Regions from separate parts of the Homo sapiens genome. Here all the other regions are linked to region 3. The links come from fine-mapping of genetic effects on gene expression. A gene starts in region 3. Each other region holds a variant in brackets. All regions are shown on one strand. Distances are between the middles of the regions.

Region 1 (8,180 bases), 54 kb after region 3:
GACAGGGTCAGGGACTGGGCAGTGCCTAAATGTGAAGGTACAGGCAATTGAAATGAGAAATAACTGTTAATTTTTTTACTAATTCAGTTCAGTGGAGTCAAAAGAAAACTGGTTTTGGTGCTTTGGAAAATTGTTCAAGCATCAATTAATAGTCAAAACTGGTCAATTATCTAAATCTACCTTATCTTCCAAATCACAGGATATAGAACAAAAAAAAATTGCCTAAAAGGTGTGGTTAATTTTTTTTAATAGACCTTATTTTTAGAGCTCACAGTAAAATTGAGTAGGAGGTATGCAGTTAATTTTTGAACATTCAGGGCCTAATTCTCTAGTTGGTGTATTAGCCAAATTCATTTTCTTCTTTTTGCTTTCTATTGTATTTTCCCCCTCACTGATTTTTGGCCCTTTCTGTAGCACCTGAAGATGGACAGGGGAGAGAAAAGAAGTGGGATTCCTTTGAAAAACATTTTTTTTAATTTAATTTTTAGTTTAAAATTTTTTTTGAGACAAAGTCTCGCTCTGTTGCCCAGGCTGGAGTGCAGTGGTGAAATCTCAGCTCACTGCAACCTCCGCCCCCCAGGTTCAAGCAATTCTCCTGCCTCAGCCTCCCAAGTAGCTGGGATTACAGGTGTGTGCCACCACGCCCAACTAATTTTTTGTATTTTTAGTAGAGATGAGGTTTTGCCATGTTGGTCAGGCTGGTCTCAAACTCCTGACCTCAAGTTATCCACCTGCCTCGGCCTCCCAAACTGCTGGGATTATAGGTGTGAACCACCATGCCCGGCCATTTTTTTTTGTGAGACCAGGTTTCACTCTTGTTGCCCAGGCCGGAGTGCAATGGTGCAATCCTGGCTCACTGCAACCTCTGCCTCCTGGGTTCAAGTGATTCTCCTGCCTCAGCCTCCCAAGTATTTGGGATTAGAGGTATGCACACCATGCCTGGCTAATTTTTTGTATTTAGTAGAGACAGGGTTTCACTATGTTGGTCAGGCTGGTCTCGAACTCATGACTTCAGGTGATCCACCCACCTCAGCCTCCCAAAGTGCTGAGATTACAGGCCTGAGCCACCATGCCCAGCCCATTTTTTTGCTTTTTGTTTTTGTTTTTTTCAATTACAATGGAGTCACATCTTACAGGAGGGGTTAGGCTCTTAAGGAAGACCATGAGGTCAAAGTGCAGTGAAAATTACTCTTGAAAATTTTTTAATGAGCCATAAGACCTGGGATACACCAAGTTTTTGTCGTTTTTTGTTTGTTTGGGGCTATTTCTTTTCTTCCAGCATTGAAACAGACATAAGTTTCTTCAAGTGAGCACTGGTTGAAATAATTGATTGGCACTTAGGGGCAGGAAGATAAGCACCTTTAACCACTAGACTCATATTCTGTGTGGGGAGATCAGGACCAGTTACATAATTTGCCAGGTCCAGTGCAAAATGAAAATGCAAGGCCCCCTTTCAAAAAGCACAGTATTAAGAATCTCAACACAACAGCAGCAATGTATTAAACCAAGCACAGGGCTCTTCCAAGGGTGGGGCCTTGTGCAACTGCCCAGACTGCACGAACATGAAGCCAGCCGTGGGAAAGAAGCTTGGAACATAATGAGAAGCTCAGAAACTCAGATAAACACAGTAAGAGAAGCCTCACAACTCCCATAGAGAGAAATAGGGGACAAGATCACTGGAAGTATTTAAATTATTCTCTTGTGTTCCTCATATTCTGTCCTAGATGAGTCCCGTATAGCTAAATTTGCATTACATTAAATCAGTACAATATGCAACTCCACTAGAAAAGTTATAAGGCTGAGAGGTTGCAAATCCAACTGTAATTACATTTTTAGATTTTTGTCAATGATTTATTATAATTTAAAACTCAGATTTCAGATGTGTAAAAAGAAAATGAGTATTTCTATTTCTTCATCGAACAAAAATTTTGATCTGCCCTTAGTCTTTTGCCAAGAGTGATAGACCACATTTAGTCTACCGTGTAATTTACAGGGAGAAAAAAAAACTGTATTACTGTGAGTTCTCTAAGTGGTTCAAAAAGGTAAGTTAGAAAAACTAGGTGTAATAATATGTCTTCTTCAAATAAAATGCTAATTATTTTACTTCTAAAGAGGTTGCCTTTTCAGATTTTGTTGTTTTTTTTTTTTCCTCAGAAAGCCATAAACATAACCTGAGCAGGGAAGATTTTGTGTTATGACTGTCTGAGCCCTCTGAGCAACAATGTGATACAAGGCTCATTTTTGAGGGAACTGCCTTATATTTTACAGCACTCCATTTTTTCAAAGTGTTGTTTTTGTTTTGTTTTGTTTTGAGATGGAGTCTCGCTCTGTCGCCCAGGCCGGAGTAAAGTGGCGTGATCTCGGCTCACTGCAACCTCCACCTCCCAGGTTCAAGCGATTCTCCTGCCTCAGCTTCCAGAGTAGCTGGGATTACAGGTGCGTGCCACCACGCCCAGCTAATTTTTTTGTATTTTTAGTAGAGACGGGGTTTCACCGTGTTAGCCAGGATGGTCTCGATCTCCTGACCTTGTGATCCACCTGCCTCGGCCTCCCAAAGTGCTTGGATTACAGGCATGAGCCACCGTGCCTGGCCCAAAGTGCTTTTATACACAAGTCAGGCCAAGGGCAGTTGGTCAGGTAATTCACAGAAGGGTTTTCAGATAGCAAGTTATTTAACATTAAAGTAACAGAAGATAGTATTTCCAGCATCTTTTCTTATCTCAGCTTGGTTCTCTGATGTTACAGTTGAACTTGCTTTGACAAAAGCTGCTTTCCTGGTGGCTTTGAGAGCTACATATCTGAACTTTAAAAGAAGTGTCATGCCTAGGATCAGGCAGCTGGTCACTCCAGTATAAAGGACAACTACCCTGACTCATGGTCACCTGCTCCAACTTATGTCATAGCTCAAAACAATACTTAAATCCTTACAAAGCTAACAAAGGAAGTAATGTTGCCATGTGTCATTGTCACAGAATTACCAGAAGTTTGGGGGATTTGGGTGTTCATCTTTCTATTGTGGAGTTTTTAGGGTGGTGATGGCAGTTGTGTGGTGGTTGTCATTTGGCAGGAATTGAAATTGGAGGCTTCTGTCATTCTGATTACTTATCCAACGAATGACACAAATAAGAGCATGTTTGTAGGGAAGAACTCAGGTGGGGACAGCACCTTCTATTTAATCTCTTAACCTGTATTATTAGGTTGTATATTTTAGGAGAAGAGAGGAAAGTGGCAAAAGGAGGCACAGATACAAATTTATACAGATCACCAGCTAAGTTTGGCCACAGTGGTTTGCCAAAGAATTTCAATAACTAATACTTAGAGTGCTTACTGTGCACCCTGCTAAGCACTTCACATGCTTTATTTCACTTTATCCTCAAAATAACCCAAGGAAATAGCTATCATTGTTATCCCCAGAGACCAAGATCTCATGGATAGTGAATGTCAGAGCCAGGACTGGAACCATAGAGGAGTCTGTGTTGTAACCACTGAACAACTGACTTTCTACCCTGCTTTAAAATGTTGCCTGTTGTTTGTTGTTGTTGTTTTTGAACGGTGGTGGCCAATCTGCCTCCACAATCCAGACATAATTTCGGCACTAAACAGAAATACTTTAGTCTATACAAACTTCATGTAAGTAGTTCCTGCATGAAACTATTTCCCAAGTAATACAGCACCGATTTACACCTGGCAGAAGGCATAGTTTTGATGTGAACAGTTGGGGGAAGCTTGTTTCTCTACACCCTCAAGCACGCCCACAGCAGGAGCTGAGCAGCAGGCCAGACGGCACAGAGCCCTCCTGGGACTGGTTATTTACATTAACCAAGGTGGAAACTTCTCCCGGAGATAGGTGCTGCCAAGAACCCTAGAGGAAGTAAGACGCTTTATCTTTTGCACGCACGCCAAGTCTTCAGAGGGCCTGGATGGGTGTGACTCCAAGGAGCTAATCGTCCCGTGCAGGTGCAAATCTAGACCCGTGTTTATGTGGAGGTGTAGACGCAACTGGAGATGACCCGGTTAGTGGCTGACGTGCGTGGGAAAGCCCACCAGCAGCGTTGTTGGTTGGGTTGTCTCTGTAAGTGTGGACAGTGTGTTGGTGGGCACCCAGTTCCGATTGCCCCGTCTAGACAGGGGTGTGCGGGCACTCAATGTTCCACGCGCGGCCGGGAGCTCGCAGTGTGGTCCACGCCAGTGCGCCTGGAAGCCCAGGGGATCTGTCCGGCACTCCACTGGAGGCTTGGCCCGCGGCTTCGCCCACCTCCCCAGAGCCCCGCTCAGCCCCCGCTCCCCCCGCTCAGCCCCCGCTCAGCCCCCGCTCAGCCCCCGCTCAGCCCCCGCTCAGCCCCCGCTCAGCCCCCGCTCAGCCCCCGCTCAGCCCCCGCTCCCCCACTCGGCCCCGCCCCCAGTGCCCTGGCAGGCCCCGCCCCCAACGCCGGGCGCTCCCGTCGGCTCGGCGGCCTCAGTTCCGTAAACACTTCTCACCCCGCCCCCGGCAGCCCGGACCGCACCACTCGCCGCGCGGGGGAACCGTGCCCTCTCGCATCCGAAACACCCTCCCATCCGAGCTGTTCTCGGCCTCTCTGGTTCAAACTGACGAAGACTGTTTCTCTAATAGGTTCAGTCTGTGAGCGCTCGGCTTTCGGAGACTGAAGGGCCCTGGATCCCCTTGCCCCGTCGCGCCGTCGTCCCCCCGCTATCCGGTTTTGTGATGGCCGCGCCGTGGCTGCCTCCCTAGAGTCCCTCAGGGCCCTTTAAATACCGCGTTG[G/C]GGGGGACACTGGGGCTGGGGGGGTTTGTTGGGCTGGTGAGTTTTCGAGGTGACTGTGCTGTGCTCGGTGAGGGGACGCCCAGAGAGCCCTGACCCGGGGTCACTCCGTCGCCGTTCTCCTCTTGTCTACGTGCTGGACCCGGTGCGTATCCATCACGGGGGAGGCGTTGCCGGCTCGGAGGTGACCGGCCAGGTCCAACGGAGGGGACACCGCTGCAGCCCGAAGGCTCCCCTGCCCTATCTCGGAACTCCATCCTGGGAAGGCGGGGTCAGGGGCCATCAAGCTCGGCTCCTAGTTCATGTCTTCCCACTCCGCGTCCCCTTGTTTGACCTCGAACTGCCGTCCCGCGTGGGAGCGGGGAGCGGGGCACCGAGTGGCCGCCCCGCGTGTCGGGGTGGACACGGACTTCGGGCCTCGGAGGCCGCTTCGCCGCTGTTTAAATCCTGCTGGACAGGTACCAGCGGCATCCCGCCATCAGGGGCCCAGGGCACCCCCTTCCCCCACACTCCTCGGCCGGGCTGGAGTAGGGAACTGAGCCAGGGTAGAGGCAGGGCGGGCCCGGCAGCGTGTGTTTGGGATTTGTTGCCGTGGTTTCCCCGGCACTCAGCTCTGCCTCCGCCGTCCCCTCCCCCAAGGGTTTGTTTTGACAGGAAACCTGGTGCTGCTGGAGGGGAGGGGCGGCCAGAGGACGTGGGTGAGGTCGTGCAGACTGCTGCTGCGTCCCCTTGCCGGGACCTTTGGTTAAGGGGAAGAGGTGGAGAAAAGCCGATTGGGCCTGGGCTCGAACGCTGAACCCTCAGGTGTTGCTTGTGCTTCCCAAAGCTGCTACTGTAGGTGGCACCACTGGGGGTAATAGCAATGATTTGAGGTGGCATATGGATGAACATAGTTACTTGTTTTCGTTACTATTAAGAAAATCTGTTCCATTAAGTAAGCAGTTTCACAATGATAGAGTTTCCTTTTAAAATAAATATATTTAAATGCAAAAATCTAGTCAAGATAGAGACGCGGTTACTAAATTATAGTAAAGGTAAGGAGGGAGACGTAGAAATAGTCATGAAGAGTGGCACTCAAACGACTTAAGTTTGGGAAATCTTAGATGGTTGTCCTGCTACCTTAACTGTGAAGAAACTGGACAAGTTGTCCTTGTCCCCAGTGGGTGTCTCAGCACCCATGGTCACCAGCCCAGTCAGGGACTTTGCTCTTCTTACCTGCCAACGGATAATGAGTTAATCTCAGTGGTTCCCACTTGAGGAGGCTCCCTGCCGTGGTCCTTTTCCTCTCTTCTCTAGGGATTTCATGCATCACCCTGACAGCCAGTGGAAGTTGCCTGATTTGAAGAGGCCCAGGGCCGAAGATACCCAGTCATGTGTGGAAGCAGCTTCAATGCCATTTTGTGAGAGGTTGAGGGCCCCAGAGGGGGAAGCACAGGTATTAAAACAAAACAGACCAGCAAGTGTGGGAGGAGTGCTTTCAAATGTGAAAAGTGCCAGGAATCCTTCTCCCTGATGCTGTAATGCCACGTGTAACGTGAACATCTGCTTTGTGGACAGTGACTGGCTTGTTGGCTTTTATCTAGCTCTTTGTTGGTTCTAACTTGATGAAGACCAGTATTGTCTAGATGAATGGTATGGGCCCCTATCCCTCTGCTCTATGGTTTTTGCTTTGCTGTGGATGAATAACTTTAGTGCTGCTATTTAAGACTGATTCTAAAGCAGCATTTTGCAGAAGATGGAAATTTTTCACATCATCTGCAATTTTTTTCTTTAGAGCCCAGACTTAGTCCTCTGACTCCCTTCCCTTTACTACACATATGTGAAGGCTTGTCCTTGCAGCTGACCTCGATCTAGTGTTGAAGGATGGTACACACTAGAAGTTTCTTGAAATTTCTTTTTTGCGTGAGCTAACCTTAACTGGATGGGTTCAATTCCTCAAGGCCCTGCTGGGTAATCTGAATATTTCACTCCAAAATGTTTATGACTGTAAGCAGTTAACCTTTTTGCTAATACGTGGGGTCTAACTAGGGATTTTGCGGTGCATAAAGAATGGCTCCCTCCTAGAGGATTTTCTGTCACTGTAGCGGGGTGGTGAAGAATTGTTTTGGGTGACGTACTCCTTCAGTGATGCCCTTCACAGAATAGCACTTGAGCAGCCATACCAGGATAAGATCAGCTTGCTACCACATGTGCAAGTGTCCACAGGGTGATGGGTAGATGGATTTGGCAGAGTGGGAGTGGAAAGAATGAGCAGCACACCAAATTTTCTCCAGCCAAACTGGAGTGGTAGAGAGCATGGGTTTTAGGGATCCGCTTCCTGGATTTGAGTTGTGCCTCTACACTGCTGTGAACCCTTGGGCAAGTAACGCAACCTCTCTGGGCCTCAGGATCTTATTATAAAATGGGGATAATACTGATACATTAGCTAACAAGGTTATAATAAGGATTCAAGGAGATAAAATATATAAAGAACTTATCATAGAACAGTTATTGAGTGCTTATTACTACCTCAATAATAAGCACTCAATTACTGTTAGCTGTAATTGTTGTTATTTGCTACACGTGAGTTTCTTTAACCTCCTGGAACTGTGGGTCTTTGCTAGTTTGAATTTTTGGTGCCTTGCAAATGCACTGAAGTAGGCACTGGGAATTGGAGAGGAGAGTCATCGCTTCCACCAGCAGCTTAAAATCTAGTGGGAGACAGATATGCACACAAGTGTAGTACTGTAAGTGACTGCGTAATGGGAATATGAGTAATGTGAGTGAGGCAGAAAAGAAGGAAAACTCAAGGTGTCTTATGAATAGGAGTGTGGCGTAATTAGTTCATGCAGCTGTACTCACTGAGCTCCTGCTCTAGCCCTAGCGGTGTTCTAAGCTCTAGCTGGCTCATTAGATGCAGTGAGTGTAGCAATCAGGGAAGGTTACCTCGTAGTTGGTGACATTAAATTTCAAATCTGAATGACAATAGGGAGCCAACCACAAGGAGATCAGGGAGAGGAACATTTCAGGGGCAGAGAACAGCAGGTATGAGTGCCCCGAAATAGGAAGTTTGGCATGTCTGAGGAACGCAAAGAAGATCATGAAGGGTTAGTGGGAGAACACTGCAGAATAAGGTGGGCAGAGTTAAGATCACAGAGGGTTGTAAACCATGGCCCAGTGACTTAGGAAAAGGGAACCCACCTAGGGATGAACTCTTAAAAAGGATTATCTATTTTGCCTTTTCTGGAGGGCTCTGGCCTATTTCCTGTTTTATTCTTTAGGCACTGTTCAAGAAGGACATCAGGACAAGTTTGACTGTCTAGAAGAGTTCTTGTAATAGAGTGGTATTTAAGCTATCACAGCAGTGGGCACAATCAGAATTTCAAAACTGCAAGAGGTTGGACTGTTCTGAATTTGAATCTTGAAGTTTCAGTTCAGCCT
Region 2 (8,180 bases), 19 kb before region 3:
TAGTGGATGGCAATTGCCTCTGAGTGGCACCTGATTTTCAGGACTGTCCTGTGGCTCTGACATCTCCTCAGCATAGACTTTCTCTGCAGAGGGGCTCTAGGGGTTGAGTGTGTGGGCTGCCTCTCTGCAGATTTTACTCCCTCTCTCCTGTGCCCCTCCTTACCTCAGCAAGCCCCGGTTCCTTCCCGTGAAGGCTAGGAGGAAAGTAGCCATCTGCAGAAGAATCTGGGGAGGGACTGCCATGGTGGGCTTTAGTTCTTGGCTAGAAGAGCCTCTGTTCTCGGCAGGAGAAGCCAAATTGCACAAGAAAACCCAAAGATCTTCTTTGATGTACAAAGCCATGAAGTCACAGCCCTTAAAAGAGGTCGACAAAGAGCCCAAAGTTTCCATCAGGTTGACAATGTCCATGTAATTCATCTCACTCACTGCAAGGATCAAAACACCAAATGCTTCCAGGAGCCAGACAGGAGGCCTAAATGAATGGAGAAGCAGACACAAGTGAGTGGTGGGAAATGTGAGAATCTAGAGGCCACAGGCCCACCTGAAGACCTCACAATCAAACACAGGCCCACCTGAAGGCACTCACAATCAAACACAGGCCCACCTGAAGGCACTCACAATCAAACACAGGCCCACCTGAAGGCACTCACAATCAAACACAGGCCCACCTGAAGGCACTCACAATCAAACACAGGCCCACTTGAAGGCACTCACAATCAAACACAGGCCCACCTGAAGGCACTCATAATCAAAATTCCAAACTCAACGGGGCACAGTGGCTCATGCCTGTAATCCCAACACTTCAGCAGGCCGAGGTGCAAGGATTACTTGATCTGAGGAGTTTGATACCAGCCTAGGCAACATAGTGAGACCCCTGTCTCTATGAAAAGATCAAAACACGAGCCAGGTGTAGCGGTGTGCACCTGTGGTTCCAGCTACAAGAGAGGATTAAGCGGGAGGATCGCTTGAGCCCGGAGGGTCAAGGCTGCAAGTGAGCTATGATCATGCCACTGCACTCCAGCCTGGGCAATGGAGTAAGACCCTGTCAAAAAAAAAATTCTAAACTCACATTTTGCAGGCCAACAATAGAAGGGCTCATTTCACAAGCCTGGCATTTCAAATTCCCTGCATTTAGTCAATTTCTAAGTACTATTTATTGAGCACTTCACTGTCATGGCCACTGTTCTAAGCACCTCAGATGGAGTAAGCCTCACAACAACCCTATGAAGTAGGCACTATCATTAGCATCATTTGCATTTATAGGTGGGGAGACTGAGGCACGGAGCACTTAAGTAACTGTCCCGATGTCAGACAGATAGAATATGCCATGGCTGGGAACTCAAATAGTAAGGCTCAAAAACTCAACTTATCCAATTTCTTATCTTTTTTTTTTTTTTTTTTTTTGAGACAGGGTCTCACTTGGGCTAGAGGGCAGTGCTGCCGTCATGGGTCACTGCAGCCTTGACTTCCCAGGCTCAAGCAATCCTCCCACCTCAGCCTCCTGAATAGCTGGGTCTACAGACATGCATCACCACACCCGGCTAATTTTTATATTTTTTGTAGACATGGGGTTTTCCGCCATGTTGCCCAGGCTGGTCTCGAACTCCTGGGCTCAAGCAATCTGCCTGCCTTGTCCTCCCAAAGTGCTGGGATTACAGGCACAAGCCACTGCACCTGGCCAGAACCCAGTGTCTTAACCACCAGTACTATACACACAGTACAAGTACATAGTTGTATCCTGGGACATTATGGGAAGCTGATTTTATTACTATGGGAAAGGGAGTATGGTTTAACAGACAAAAAGCAGGCCTTATTAGAGACAAACAGAGTCCGAGTCCTGCTGCTACCACAGACTGCGTGCTCCCAGAGCAAATTAATGACCATTTCTTAGTGTCTGATCAGTAAATCAGAGACAACCACTTTTACTCCCTGGGATAATCGTCAGGGTAAGCGAGATGATAAATGTGTTCCACCTAAAGCATGACATCAAACACAAAACACAATTATGGGTGACTATTACTTAAGTGAAGGACTAAGCATCCAACATTTGACTTGCCTTATTTAAAGGGCGCCACTTGCACTTTTTTTTTTTTTTGTCCTTTTTGAAACAGAGTCTCACTCTGTTGCCCAGGCCGGAGTGCAGTGCTGTGATCTCAGCTCACAGCAACCTCCGCCTCCCAGGTTCAAGCGATTCTCCTGCCTCAGCCTCCCGAGTAGCTGGGATGACAGGCACGTGCCACCACGCCCAGCTAATTTTTTGTGTTTTTAGTAGAGATGGGGTTTCACCGTGTTAGCCAGGATGGTCTCGATCTCCGGACCTCGTGATCCGCCCACCTTGACCTCCCAAAGTGCTAGGATTACAGGCGTGAGCCACTGCGCACTTCTTAACTAGCTTGACATAGGAACGATAAAGGTCTTTCGGTATCTAAACTTCTACTAACAAAAGATTCATATTAAACAAAACCCTTTATTACCTAAGTTTTCAAAAGGGGCTAATTAGTAGGATAGTATACACATTACAAAAGCATTCATGTCACAGAGAAATACACACATAGGTCTTTTAAATAGTGGATTTCTCTGGTATTTTTAATGGTACAATTGGATTTTATCCCCTTTCTGGAACAAGAGCGAAAAATGAAGAAATCATTCCTGTGATCCCTGACTCTGACACTAGATGGCAATAAATTCTCACTTCAATTATGTTCTCTGGGTTCCTACTGCCACAGTCAGCTGATTTGGGGCTATTCCCCAGCTGAAAGTTCAGGGGCTTGAGCCGCTCTGGATTTTTTACTGGTGCATCCCGGCATCTTCTGAAAGTGAATAGTCTTCACATGAGGTTATCCAAGATGTCAGCCCGGCCCGGCCAACATTCCCCATTTCACCCCAATAAATGAGAAAACATTAATTGTGACCCAGTGTGTGCCGGCCCCCATGGGAGCTACAAACAGACCCTTGGTTAAGACAGAAGCCACCCTGGCCCCTAGAGATCTGCTCACTGTCTAGTCCTTTTTCCCTTAGGCCTCCTCCTGCCCACCCGAGGCTCCAAAAGACTCTTGTGCAATGGTTAAAGTCAAGGAAAGTTGGATCTGGAAGAGAACATGAAGATTACTTTATCTCCCCTCACTTTTCAGATGGGAAAACAGATGGAGGCCCAGAGAAGGAAAGTGAATTATCCTAGGCAGCACAGCCCGGCAGGCCAGCATTCGGACCAGAGTCCTGATTCCAGGTGACTTCCCCCATCCCTGCTGTTCTTGTCACACCATGTGAGAACTCCGTCCTGGAGTGCAAACCAAGATCATACCCGTGAATGGAAGAAAACAAAAAGACCTAGCCTTCTGAGTTTCCATGAAGGACTCTGTGGGACAGGATGTGTCCTCACACCAGCAGCCACACCCAGTTGGTAATGCCTCTTTCAACACAACATCACCAGCTATTTGAACACAGGCC[G/A]GGATTTCCCCACAGCCCCATTACCCAACAGGTATTGCTCCTGAGTGTTCGCTGCCACACGCGGGGGCTTGCACAGCAAGGCCAGGCTGCCACACCCCTTCCTGCCAAGAGTGGGTTTTGCTGCCTGCAGCAACTCAACTGCCCTGATTCTTCGCTTACTTCTGAGCATTTTGCATCTGTGCTTAGGCCTGGAGCCAAAACAAATTGTGGGGGATAAGAGAAGAAATTAGGCCCTGTCTTCTTAGCCAGTTAGTGTATGAGCTTGGGTGAACAACTTCTCTGAGACTCAGCCTCCCCATCTGTAAAACAACAGAATTAGATTAGAGCCTTCTCTCAGCCTTAGCTTTCTAAGGCCTGTCACATGGCTACTTAGCTATCATTACTATGAAAAGTAATCATGCGTAAATGCAGCACTTCACGTAATATATGTAGGCGTCATTTGTTTTCTGACCTGTACTAGTTTAACTATTAAAAGTATAAGCTTTTCTCTATGTGTTTCTTCCCCTTTAAAAAAAAAAAGTTTAATTACAAAATATTTCTGACCTATGAAAAGATATCAGGAATATGGGGAGGCCAGGCATGGTGGCTGACACCTGTAATCCCAGCACTTTGGGAGGCCAAGGCAGGTGATCACTTAAGTCCAGGAATTCAAGAACAGAGTGAGCAACAAGGCAAGAACTTGTCTCTACAAAAACACAAAAATTAGCCGGGTGTGGTGGTGCACGCCTGTTAGTCCCGGCTACTACTTGGGAGGCTGCGGTGGGAGAATCACTTGAGCTGGGGAGGTAGAGGCTACAGTGAGCCAAGATCGGCCACCGCACTGCAGCCTGGACGTATATATATCACATATATATATACCATCTCCCCATATTTTTTTATTTTTCTGAACAGAGCAAGACACTGTTCAAAAAAATTGTAAAAATGGGGAGATGGATATATATGTGATACACAAACATAGCAAAGTGTTCATTATAGTATCTAAGTAGTAGATATATGAGTGTCCGCTGGACAATTCTTTCAACTTTGCTGTTTGAATTTTCATAATAAAATATTGAAAGGAGAAAAAATGTATTATGAGTGATATCATGAATACTTAGGTAGCCTCCACTCAGCCTAAGAAATCAAATGATCTGAATTTGGATATTCGGTCTCCTAGTCATTTCTTGGTACTTTCACTACAATGTATAGTATTATTTTACACGGTAAAATGTCTTAGTTTTAAGAATTAAGGAATTTCTGAAGTGTCACACTGTGTATTTTGTCTGCAGCTTATTTTTTCACTCAGCATTTTAGTTGTGAGATTCATCCCCACGATATATGAGATTAGGATTTCTTCCTTTTTGTTGTCGTTTTGAGGTCTATTGTATGAACAAGTGATAGTGGATTTACTGATCTTGTAGCTACTTTCTCGGTGTTTCCACTTTTCTTTCTTCGTAAGCGGCGCTGCTGTGCCCATTCTCTCCACGGCTGCATGTCGCCTTGTGCGCAGGAAAGGGGACACAGTGGTGTTCAGGGGCTCTGTGGAGACACACATGGCCTCTAGCACAAGTGACCTGGGTGTTCAAACTATGTCCTCAGGAACCTGTGTTTTGCCGACTCTTGGTTCTGTTTTCTTCTATGCTGGCCTCATTCTCAGTGGACTCTGCACATGTGGTGGCCTTTAGCAGCCCTGGGCATTTATCCAGCTTGGCAGTCCCGGTGGGCAGAAAGCATCCCTTTCCAGAAAGTTCCAGCAGTAGTCAATGGACTGGATGGCGACCTGTATTCCTCCTGCACAAGTCAAACCAGATTTCTGATTGGCCAAACCTGGGTCATGCACTCAGCCCAGTCAGTCTCATCAAAGCCAAATGGACTGAGAGTGGGGAAGGGGTGATTCCCTAACAGAAAACAGAGAAGTGGTCACCAAATGAAGGAGGACTGGATGCTGGGCAGGCAACAACACATGTCCAGGACCCAGCAGTCCTCATGTGGTCCCTTGACCGCTGCACAGGTCACCCTGCATGTGATTATGGTGCCATTTACATGTCTGTGTCCCCTGTTTGGCTGGGAGCCTCTCAAAGAGGAAGACTTCATCTTTCATCTCATCTCCGCTGAGCAAATGCAGCTCAGCACCCAGTTTATAATAAATGACAGTAGGTGGAATCAATCCCTTGACCAAACACATCCTGAAGACGGGGAAGGGCAATTCAACCCTCTGCCTCTGAGGTTTTAGGTCCTCCCTCTGTGAACCCAGTCAGAGGGGTATGACGAAGAAAACGTCCACTACACCTCACCCTCTCTTTTTCTCTCTGAGTTACTGACCATCAGGACAAATGCAGTGTCCAGTTCAGAAGTCAGTATGTTCTCAAACAGCTGCCCTTTATTGAACACCTACTATGTCTCACACTTTTTTTTAATATATGGCTGGGCAAGATTCATCCAGATAGGAATGTTTCCAGCCTTCTGTGAATATGCTGAAAACAACTGTACACTTTAATAGGGTGAACTTTATGGTATGTGAATTTTATCTCAGTAAAGCTGTCATTTTTTAAAAGAAATACCAAGTCTTATATGGTATGATTTCATCTCTACAAAATTCAAAAATGGGCAAAATATTCTATGGTGATAGCAGAATAGTGGTTAGGTTAGAGGGTATTGACTGAGGAGCACGGGGAGCCCCTGGTGTGCTGGAAAAGTTGCATATCTTGATCTGGTAGTGAGTACATGGAGATATCGTGTGCAGAAATTCATTCAGCCATATATTTCAGATGTGTGTGCCTTAAAGCACCAAAGTTGCACCTCAACAAAAAGTAATCCCAAACAGTGATGTCTTTTTAAGTGAAGAAAAGAAACCAGTTCTAGAGCAGTACAAAATTTTAATGGTTTACCATTAAAATGTAATGGTTTGCCATTACTTTTAATGGCAAAAAACACGATTACTTTTGAACCAACCTAATAACTCAAGCTATTGGGTTCTAAACCTGGCTACCCCACTTGCTAGCTATGACTAGGAAGTACTTTGTCCAAGTTACTGAATCGCTCTGTACCTCAGTTTCCCCATCAGTAAAATGGAGAGGCCAATAGTACCTACCCTTAGGACTATTATAATGATTGAATGAGATAATCCTCGTAAAACCTTTAGAGCAGTGTCTGGCACATAGTAAATGCTCAATAAATTTTAGTTATTTCTGTTATTATTGATGTGGGCCAAGCACAATGATCTCTGTGGATGCAGAGATGAAAGACAGAGCCTTATTCTCATGTGGAACACACCAGAAGCAAGCGGTCATGATACAGACAGAGGAGCACTTTGAAGACAAGAAGCCTGGAGTGTGGGCTCTCGTGGGAGGAGCTCCCAAATTCAGCCTGTGGTTTGGGTTGAAGGATCCAGGGAACGTGCAAAGGCACCAAGAGTGACAGAACCAGGGGCCACATGAGGGGTAGTTATGCTAATCAGGGCGGCTACAAACAGAGTTCACAGAAGAGGAGGCTGGAGGGCAGGAAGACAGAGCAATCGGAAAGCTCCTTCTTGGCCACGACCCAGAGCCAGGCTGCTCCTGAGGCCAAGGGGAGAGCCTAGGGATTTCGCAGGGAGGGGACACAGGCAGATTTACTTTTGAGAAAGAGAACGATGGTCACCCATGGAGGATTGATTCCCTGAATGGGAGCCAGGCTAGAGACAGGGAGGCCAGTTAGGAGGCTGTACCTGTCCCTCAAGCATATACTGCAGTGTGTATAATACATTGTCCTGTATGTCTCCTCCCAGCTGCATCATGAGCACCATGAAGGCAGGAACCATATCTATAAAGTAATCTCCTTAGTCTGGCAAAGAGTGTGCGCTCTCTGAATATTGTTGAATGGATACTGAGTGCATGGACCACGTTTCTGATCTCAGTTGACCAGCAGAGAGCATCGTGGGGAGCGGCTGCTGCTGGAACCCAAAAGGCTGGGAGGAGGGGACAGAGGTGGATGTGTCAAGGCCTCAACCCTAGGAGAAGTGGAGGGAGGGGAAAGGGGAGAAACAGGGAGACAACGGGTGACTCCTGAGCTTCTAGCTTAAGCAGTGAAGGGGCCAGCTGTGCCATTTACTTCGAGGGGAAATGACTTCAGTTTGGATCCGAGGGAGATTTCCGAGGGTGTTAGGGGGCAGCAAGGTGTCCAGATATTATTGGAAAAACAGATTAGTAGCTCAGAGGTATGGTCTCAGCTAGGCATAGGGATTTAGGAATTATTATTATCTAGGTGGCAAATTACATGAATGCATATACAAGAAAAAGTCTAGAAAATGACTGTGTCGTTCTGGCACCTATGTTGAAATAAAAAATGATTTAATGAATTCATTCATGCCCAGCCTTGTTATGAAAAAAATTGAGATGGCACTCATAAATATACTTTTTATATTTCTTTTTGGGCTATAGCTTCCGGCTCCTTCATCTTTTTCCTCTAGGTAGAAATAAATACACCTGCCACCATAGAATTTTAGTCTTACTCTCTAATTCTGCCCTAGTGGTTCTCAAAAGTGTAATCCCCTCACCAGCAGCATCAGAATTATCTGGAGCTTGTTAAAGATGCAAATTCTTGGGTCCCTCCCCAGACATCCTGACTTGGAAATTCTGGGACCTGCAATCAGTGTTTTTGTGTGGGTGTGTGTGTGCGGTTTTTTGTTTTTTTTGTTTTTTGTTTTTTGTTTTTTTTTGGAGACGGAATCTTACTCTGTCGCCCAGGCTGGAGGGCAAGTGGTGTGATCTTGGCTC
Region 3 (8,180 bases):
TATGGTCTGTGTGTGACCTTGAATGAGTTACACAGCCAGTCCTCAGCTGCCCCATCTGCAAAATGGTACTACTAAATGATACCTGCCTCAGAGGGTGGCTGGGAGAACAGAAATCATGGCTATAAAGCATTTAATAGCATGGCTGACCCATAGTGAACAGTAATTATGAATACTGTAAGTATACTTCCCTGCTATGAACCAAACTCCACCCCCCAACAAGTAACCAAGAGTTATAAAAGGGTTCAAACTTAGGCTGTCAGAGAACCAAACACAACTGGTTCCTCAATGCAAAATAATTTATTTACTGGCCACCCCAAAGATACAGACAGAGTGGCCACATTCTATGGCAAATCTAACACTGTTCTGGCCATGTTCTGAGTCTCAAGTCAATGGAACATTTATTGGGCACCTACTATGTACTAGGCTAAATAGTGGAGTGGTTAATAGTGTTCCAGGAGTTAGACAACAGTTTGGATCCTAGCCCAGCCACTAACTAGCTATATCACCGCTCAGTTACTTAGCCTCTCACTTTTCTCATCTGTCAAAGAGGGCTGATAATAGTACTTACCTCTTGGGGTTGTTGTGAGAGTCAGCAGATGATGCATTTTCAAATGCTTTGCATAGTGCCTGGCACGTAATAAGTGCACCATAAATATGACACATTAAATTATAGTTTGATTACACTACTAAATTAAAAGAAAAGTGGTCAGCCAGGCGCAGTGGCTCACATCTGTAATCCCAGCACTTTGAGAGGCCAAGGCAGGAGGACTGCTTGAGCCCAGGAGTTTGAGACCAGCCTGAGCAACACAGCAAGACCCTGTCTCTACCAAAAATTTTAAAAATAAATAAATAGCTGGACGTGCTTGTGCATGCCTGTGGTCCCAGCTACTTGTGAGGCTGAGGCAAGAGGAACACTTGAGGCCAGGAGTTCAAGGCTGCAGTGAGCTATGATCACACCACTACGCTCCAGCCTGGTGACAGAGTGAGACCCTGTCTCTACGAAATATAAAATATGAAATAAAAAACAGAGAAGTCACTATTTCAATTATTTTAGAGCCATGAGGATTCTTAAAAGTCTGGATGGAGCCCTCTTCTCATTGTGTGGGTGGGAAAACTGAGCCCCAAAGAAGAAAGTGATCTATATACATAGCTGTGATGGAGAAGGGGTGAGAAGCAAAAAGAAGGGACTAAGTGAGGGGCAGGGAGAAGCACAGAGAATTAACCTGGATTCAAGACCTTCCCTATTTTGGCCTCAACTTCCAACCCACCCTCTCTCACAATTTCCTACATGTGACTCTGCCATTGGCAGGGTAGCCACCTCCTCTCTCTCAAACATGCTCAAAATAGTGCCCCTGCCACGGTGTTCATCACAGTCCTTCTCTCAACATTTATCGATCACCAGCTAGATGGCTGGCACTACCCTGGCCACCGGGATACAGGCGAAATTCCACACCCTCCCTCTTCTGAACTTTCACAGGAGTTACCCTCAACTGACACCTCCTTATGCGCTGCACAAGTGATTCGTGTCTTTTGCTCCTTCATACCCTCCCACAAAGCCTACACAGAGCCATGCAACTGTCAGACTTTAATAAATATTATGATTGACTAGTAAGTAGGAGGATGAAAGAGAAGAAACAGAGGCTAGTCATTATACTCCAGCAGTATGTCTATTTTTTAAGAATGGTTTGACATTCAGGATAGGCAAAGCAGCACTGCCTACTTAATTCCCTTAGAAAAGTCACCTCCCTTGGCCTGCAGCGTTTAGCAGGCTGACTCATTCCAGTTGCTCTGCCAGTCTTTTTTTTTTTTTTTTTTTTTTTTGAGACGGAGTCTCACTCTGTTGCCCCGGCTGGGGTGCACTGGCAGGATTTCCGCTCACTGCAACCTCCACCTCCCGGGTTCAAGCAATTCTCCTGCCTCAACCTCCTGAGTAGCTGGGACTACAGGCATGTGCCACCACACCCCGCTAATTTTTGTATTTTTAGTAGACACAGGGTTTCACCATGTTGGCCAGGCTGCTCTCAAACTTCTGACCTCAGGTGATCCGCCCGCCTCGGCCTCCTACAGTGCCGGGATTACAGGCGTGAGCCACCACGCCCGGCCGTGCTCTGCCAGTCTTAAGAGGAAATTCCTGGTCCTGCACACTCAACAAAAGCAGAGAGCAACTTGGCAGGACAGACAGCATGCTGGGAAAAGGAGGCAGTGGCTCCGGGATCAGAAGTGGCGGGATTTTTTGTTTCAGTCTTGCAACCAACTTTCATTGAGCAATGACATAGTGGAGGGCGAATAAGATCAAAGGGGCTGTACTTGGTATGGAAAAACCACAGAAGGGTGGAAGCTAAGCACCTTCGCCTTGAGAGTTGGGTCCATCCATACCTGAAATGGACCCCTGTGGACCCTTGACGAACAGGGCAGTGGCCTAGACATTCTCGTGTGTCTGTCACTCACCAGCTGGGGACTTTGTCAACTCATTCCTCTGTCTAAACCTCAATGTTCTGCTCTGGGAAATGAAATCAAAACTGTTAGTCCTCCCTCCCAGGGTAGTTATAAGAATTAGATAATATGTGAGTGAGTAAGCATTCTAAACACCATATAAATGTGGCTAGAAGTATTATTCACCAGTATGATCTAGTATTTTTGGCCCTCCTCTTCCCCTAAAGCGGAAGTAGGGCCGGGCGCAGTGGCTCACGCCTGTAATCCCAGCACTTTGGGAGGCCGAGGCAGGCGGATCACTTGAGGTCAGAAGTTCGAGACCAGCCTGGCCAATACGGTGAAACTTTGTCTCTACTACTAATAAAAAATTAGCTGGGTATGGTGGCACATGTCTGTAATCCCAGCTACTCAGGAGGCTGAGGCAGGAGAATCGCTGGAACCTGGGAGGCAGAGGTTGCAGTGAGCTGAGATCGTACCACTGCACTCCAGCCTGGGCGACAGAGCCAGACTCCCTCTCAAAAGAAAACCCAAAAAAGCTGAAGTAGGACTACGTCAAAGGCCCACCTGGGCAGGCTGGTCCAATACAGGACAAGGGACCTAAAGATAGATGGTATTTCATTTGGACCTGCAAATGAGTAAGAATGCCAGCTCCGGGTCTATTAAAAACCCCGCTCGGATGTCTCCCACAGGCAGAGCTGAGGTGGGGCCTTGCCTGAGGCTTCCAGGGATGCGCTGGCTTCCCTTCCAACCTCCTTTTCAGACAGCTCTGCCCATTCAGCGGTTCCTAATGCAGAAAGAATGGGCTCCCCGGAGCCTGCCGGCTTCCTTACAGGTCACCGCTAATGCCCTGTGACAGGCCCTTGGCCCACCCTGCCAGGCGGGCCTGGGCATCCTCGCGGCGGCCCATCCCTCGGGGCCGATTCCTCCGCAGCCATTAACAAAGGGGGTCTGGGGACTGCCTCGGAACTAGGGGGCCGCGTGGAGTGGGATGTCTAGGCCAGGGCCCGCCAAGGAGGAGCGGCCGGCTCCCGCCTCCGGGCCTGGGCAGGCAGCGCTAGGGGCCGGTCGGGAAGCACGAAGGAGCCCGGCCGTGGGTCCGGAGGCCGCAGTCGATGGGGACAGTTGCGGGGCCGGGGGTACCCACCTTCTGCTCGACGCCCTGCAAGCCCTGGCCCAGCTCCTCCCTCTGCCGGGAGAAGTCCTGGTGGCTGCGCCGGACCTGCTGGACCTCCTCCAGGACGTGGTGGACGCACCAGCCCGAGAAAGCGGCCGCCGCCACCAGGGCGAGGTAGAAGAGAAAGTTGAGCGCCCTGCCGAGCCTGCGCGAGCAGGACGCCGAGGACGAGGCGGCGGCGGCGGCAGCGGCGGCGGAGGCGGAGGAGGAGGAGGAGGACTTGCCGCCGCCGCCGCCGCCGCCGCGGTGGCCGCCCTTGCCGTGCGCCTGGTTCTGCGGGTGCTGCTGCGGGTGCTGCTGCGGGTGCGGCGCGGGCGGCGGCGGCGGCTGCTGCGGCGCCGGCGGCGGCTTCTTCGCCACGTCATCCGCGCCGCCCGACGGGTGGGCACCCTTCTCCGAGGGGCTCGCGGCGCCGTGGCCGCCCTTGGAGCCCCTTTGTTTGGCCGAGGGCATGGCGGGCGCGGCGGCGGCTCGGGCCGCGGGCTGGGAGGCGAGCGAGCGCGGCGCGCGGCCCGGGAAACTTGCAGGGGCTCCCCCGGGACTGGGCGAGCGGCACGCGGGCGCTGCTGGCGTCGGAGCGGCGAGAGGACGCGCGGCCGGGGAAGGAGGCCGGGCCGAGGAGGCGGGAGGAGGGGGCCTGCCTCCGCCGCCGCGGCGCCGACCCCGCCTCCCGGTAAGGGAGGCCGAGCGAGCCGAGCCGGGAGAGCTTGCCACGCACGCCGGCCCGGCGGCCCCTCCTCCCCGCCGCCACGACCCCGGAGAGGGAGGGCCGGGCGGGGTCTACGGGGGCCGGGAAGCCGGCGCGGGGGTGGCTGGGCGCGGGGCGGGGTCCCGGCGGGGTCTGCGGAGGCCGGGGTGGGCACCGAGGTGGCCGCGAGGGGAGGGGAGAAGAGCGGAGCGGAGGGGAGGGGACGCGGCCGAGGTGGGGCTGGCGGCCCGGCGGGTTCCACGCAGGCTGGGGGCGGAGGGCCAGATCGACCCCAGCCGGGGCGGCCGAGCAGGGTCCACGGGGGTCGGGGATGGGCGGCCAGGCGGGGTCGGAGGGACGAAAGCCGGGGTGAACCTGCGCCGCGGGCCAAGCGCGACCCCCTCCCTTCCCGACCTGTGCGGAGAGGAGAGAAATGAAGGGGGGCGCCCAAGGAGCCCTGGCCCCGGGAGTGGGAGTCAGCGGGTGGGAACAGATCGCCCTTCCTTTCCGCTGGGAATTGGGGGACTCCCCCTGCTTTCACTCTCCCAGCCCGCCATGGGGTTGGGCCTTGTCCTTTGCCTTGGGTTTGAAGGCGGAGACAAAAAAGGCTGTCCAAAATCCAGCCAGCTTGGGAGGCATGGTTGATGCGAGTTAGCAAAGATTCTCGACTGTGGTAAGTCTGTTCAAGGGGACGCATTCACCAAGTGTCCCCGTTAGCCAAGTTAGCCTGCTGTGGCCAGCTCTTTACTTTTTCCCCCCGAAGCCCCTTCAGCTCTGTTTTCTCTTTCGGGGTCATGAAGTTTGTCCACGGCCCCTACTCCTGACAGCCTCTGGGATGGGTGCTGCGGAGGCAGCAGCAGCCACACAGAAAGAGGCAGATCAGCGTTGTCACCCCTACTTTTGTAAAAGGAAATCTGGTATTGCCAGGCTGTGTGGTTAGCGACTCACATATGTTCTCGAAATCTCACAAAAGCCCTGTGAGGTAGAAATTATTTTACCCATTTTATAGGAAGGAAATTGAGACTGAGCGAGCCGGCTTCGGATTGGCTCAAGGTCACATATAGTCATCATTCGAACCTCACTCAGTCTGCTTCTTTCTGAAGTCTGTGCAGCTTAATCACTTCAGAATGGGAAGGAAACGGGGGCCCAGGGAAGTTAAGCAACTTGCCCACTCACTCAGTCTAATTGGTGCCGGGGCAGGGACAGAACTCACTCAATTCCACTGCTTTCCCCAGTTTCTGGTGAGTGATGTGTGCCTGGCACTGTGTGCACCTGGCACTGTGTGTAGTAGGAATGCTGTTTCTTCTGTCTGTAACCTCCTCCCAGTTCTGTAAACAAAGACAAAACCATGCCCTGCCCTTAAAGCCTATAGGGTTCAAATGCCACCTCTTTGATGATGCTTTCCCTATAACACCATTTGATACCTCTCATGGGACTTAGCAAGTAATTGCAACGAGAGGCATATATGTTAGTTCAATATAGCAAACCTTTGTTGAGGGCCCACTGTGTGCCAGGTATGTCTCCCCTCCCTGAGGACTGGAAGCAACCATAGTTTATATTTCTCCTTCTTTCTCGCTTTATAAGGTGTTGCTAAAAGCCTCCAGTGAATGAATGAACACTTGTGTGCCTGCCCTCAAGGAGCCTGCACTACACTTGGAGATATATACAGAAACCTGTTGAGGGCTAACTTAGGTAAATTGGGAACATAAATGTAAAGAGATTTGGAAAGCAAACCATTGGCCTGTACATGGGCAGGCTTTGGGGGCAGAAAGACCTTGAGCAGTGCCTTGAAGAATGATTTGCATATGAGGAGAGCAGGGAGGATATTTCTGTGGCGGAAATGGGGTGAGCCCAGGACACCTGTTGGCCATGAGGGTGTGTTCTACATGTAGAGAAGAAAGAGATGAACTGGGTGGAGCGGGTCCAGATTGCAGAAGGCTATAGAAGCCAAGCTGGCAGATAGAAGAATCGCTATTAGTGTGGGAGGACAGAGTAAATTATAGCAGGTTCTGGACTAGAAATACAACCATCTGCCCCAGACAGAGAGGAACACCCTACTTCAGCTAAATACCAGGAGCTATTGTAGGAGCCTCTAGGTTCAACAGGGCACAGGTCTCTGACCTGTGGCGCGGGGAGACAGCAGAAGAAATCAGAAGACACTCATCACAGGAACCTTGTTTAAAAACTATTCAGCTGAGTTCGGGTTGTGTTGTTAAAATCTCTAGCGCGCAAAAAGAGGTTATCCCCCTTCAAGCAGTTCTCCATGTTAGGGGCAGAGGCAGTGATAACTGGTAAAGCAGCTTGCTGCCAAGATCTGGCCTTGAAAGCAAGAGCCCTACTCCTTTAGTGCTACCAAAGTGTGTGACCTTGAGAAGTATCCCTAAACTCCTCTAGATTTCAGGGTCACCCTTTCTGTAAGGTGCATCTTTAAGGACCTGTCTTATTATTAATCCGTTTCTTAGAGAAATAGTCATCTGATCCTTATCAAAAATAATTAAATGATATTTAAATTTTTAAAAATTGATCCAGGCCAAGTACAGTGCCTCACACCTGTAATCCCAACGCTATGGGAGGCCAAGGCAGGAAGATCACTTGAGGCCAGGAGTTCAAGACCAGCCTAGATAACAGCAAGACCCTGACTCCACCAAAAAAAATTTAGCTGGATGTGGTGGCACTCAGGAGGCTGAGACAGGAGGATCGCTTGAGCCTGGGAGTTCAAGGTTATAGTGAGCTATGATGGCACCACTGTACTCCAGCCTGGGCAACAGAGCAAGACCCTGTCTCAGGAAAAAAAAAAAAGCAGACTGTAGGCCAGATATGAGAATGGACGGTTTCTCAATTTTTACCTCTACTGAGCACTGAATGAATGAATAGAGAGTAGGACGATGGGACTGTTAATATTTTCAGCATTTCCCTCTCATTCTTTTCCTCTGGGAGATAGTACATACAATGGTTAAGACACAGGCTATAGAATAGACTGACTTGGGTTCAAATTCAGCTCCATGACTGACTTTGGAGTGTGACCTCTCTGAACCTCAGTATCTTCAGCTATAAGACAGGAGTAATTGCTACCTCACTAGGCCAGGTGTGGTGGCTCACACCTATAATCCCAGTACTTGGGGAGGCCGAGGCAGATGGACTGCTTGAGCCCAAGAGTTCAAAACAAGCCTGGGCAACAAGGCAAAACCCTGTCCCTACAAAAAATACAAAAAAAAATTATCCAGGCATGGTGGAGTGTGACTGTAGTCCCAGCTACTTGGGGAGCTGAGGTGAGAGGATCACTTGGGCCTGGAAAGTCAAGGCTGCAGTGAGCCCTGTTCACCATTGCACTCCACCCAAAAAAAAAGAACAACCTTGCTGTTATGCGGATTAGACAAGAGACACCATATGATACTGGGCATATGGCAATGCTCAGTGAATATTGGACAGCTAATACAATTTGCAGAGTCACTGAGGAAAAGTATAGCTTCAGAGAGCTTCTGTGTCCAGATTTCAACGATTTTCTTTCATCATTATTTCGTGGGGCTCCCAGGACCATATGTGGCTCACAAACCACAGGCTAGGATGTGTTTAACGTTAAAAGCAAGCAGTGTGTTTCTCTGAAGTGTGGCTCCACCATGGTGTTCGGTTACACCCAGAGGAGGAGGCTGGTGGGCAGTCATAGAAGTGCATCTTCCAGAGCAGGAAGGGATCAACAGCTCTTCCTGGAGACTTCCATTCTCCTACCCCAGTTTCTGAGCACAGCATGAATCTAGAGGAGTTTCTCTTCTGCTTTTCCTCCTAGTTTTGTTTCCTCTATCCCTTTTCCTTGCTAAAGTGTGTTGGATGGTCAGGAATGTGGGCGGAGAAGAGGGGGAGCTGGAGACATCTCATCCTTTCATCCAG

Evidence for each region. PIP is the estimated chance that this variant, and not a neighbour inherited with it, causes the effect.
Region 1: its variant is fine-mapped to the expression of CKAP4 in whole blood (TOPMed, PIP above 0.99).
Region 2: its variant is fine-mapped to the expression of CKAP4 in whole blood (TOPMed, PIP above 0.99).

The regions. Positions count from the first base shown.
Region 1 is chr12:106,298,037-106,306,216 of GRCh38, forward strand. It overlaps TCP11L2 (t-complex 11 like 2), which reads left to right and starts at 4,697. Exons shown (of 10, transcript NM_152772.3): 1 at 4,697-4,905. RefSeq lists a silencer at 4,335-4,454 and enhancers at 4,475-5,360, 4,535-4,614, 4,625-4,764. The variant G/C (reference allele first, on the strand shown) is at 4,764.
Region 2 is chr12:106,224,308-106,232,487 of GRCh38, forward strand. No RefSeq gene overlaps it. Among named protein-coding and RNA genes, the nearest start is that of CKAP4, 20 kb to the right of the region's middle. RefSeq lists a silencer at 1-79. The variant G/A (reference allele first, on the strand shown) is at 3,448.
Region 3 is chr12:106,243,792-106,251,971 of GRCh38, forward strand. CKAP4 (cytoskeleton associated protein 4) reads right to left here and starts at 4,229. Exons shown (of 2, transcript NM_006825.4): 1 at 3,578-4,229. The coding sequence starts at 4,060. It overlaps LOC124903008 (a long non-coding RNA gene), which reads left to right and starts at 4,481. Exons shown (of 2, transcript XR_007063443.1): 1 at 4,481-4,968; 2 at 5,880-8,180. RefSeq lists silencers at 3,375-3,464, 4,125-4,434, 4,465-4,804.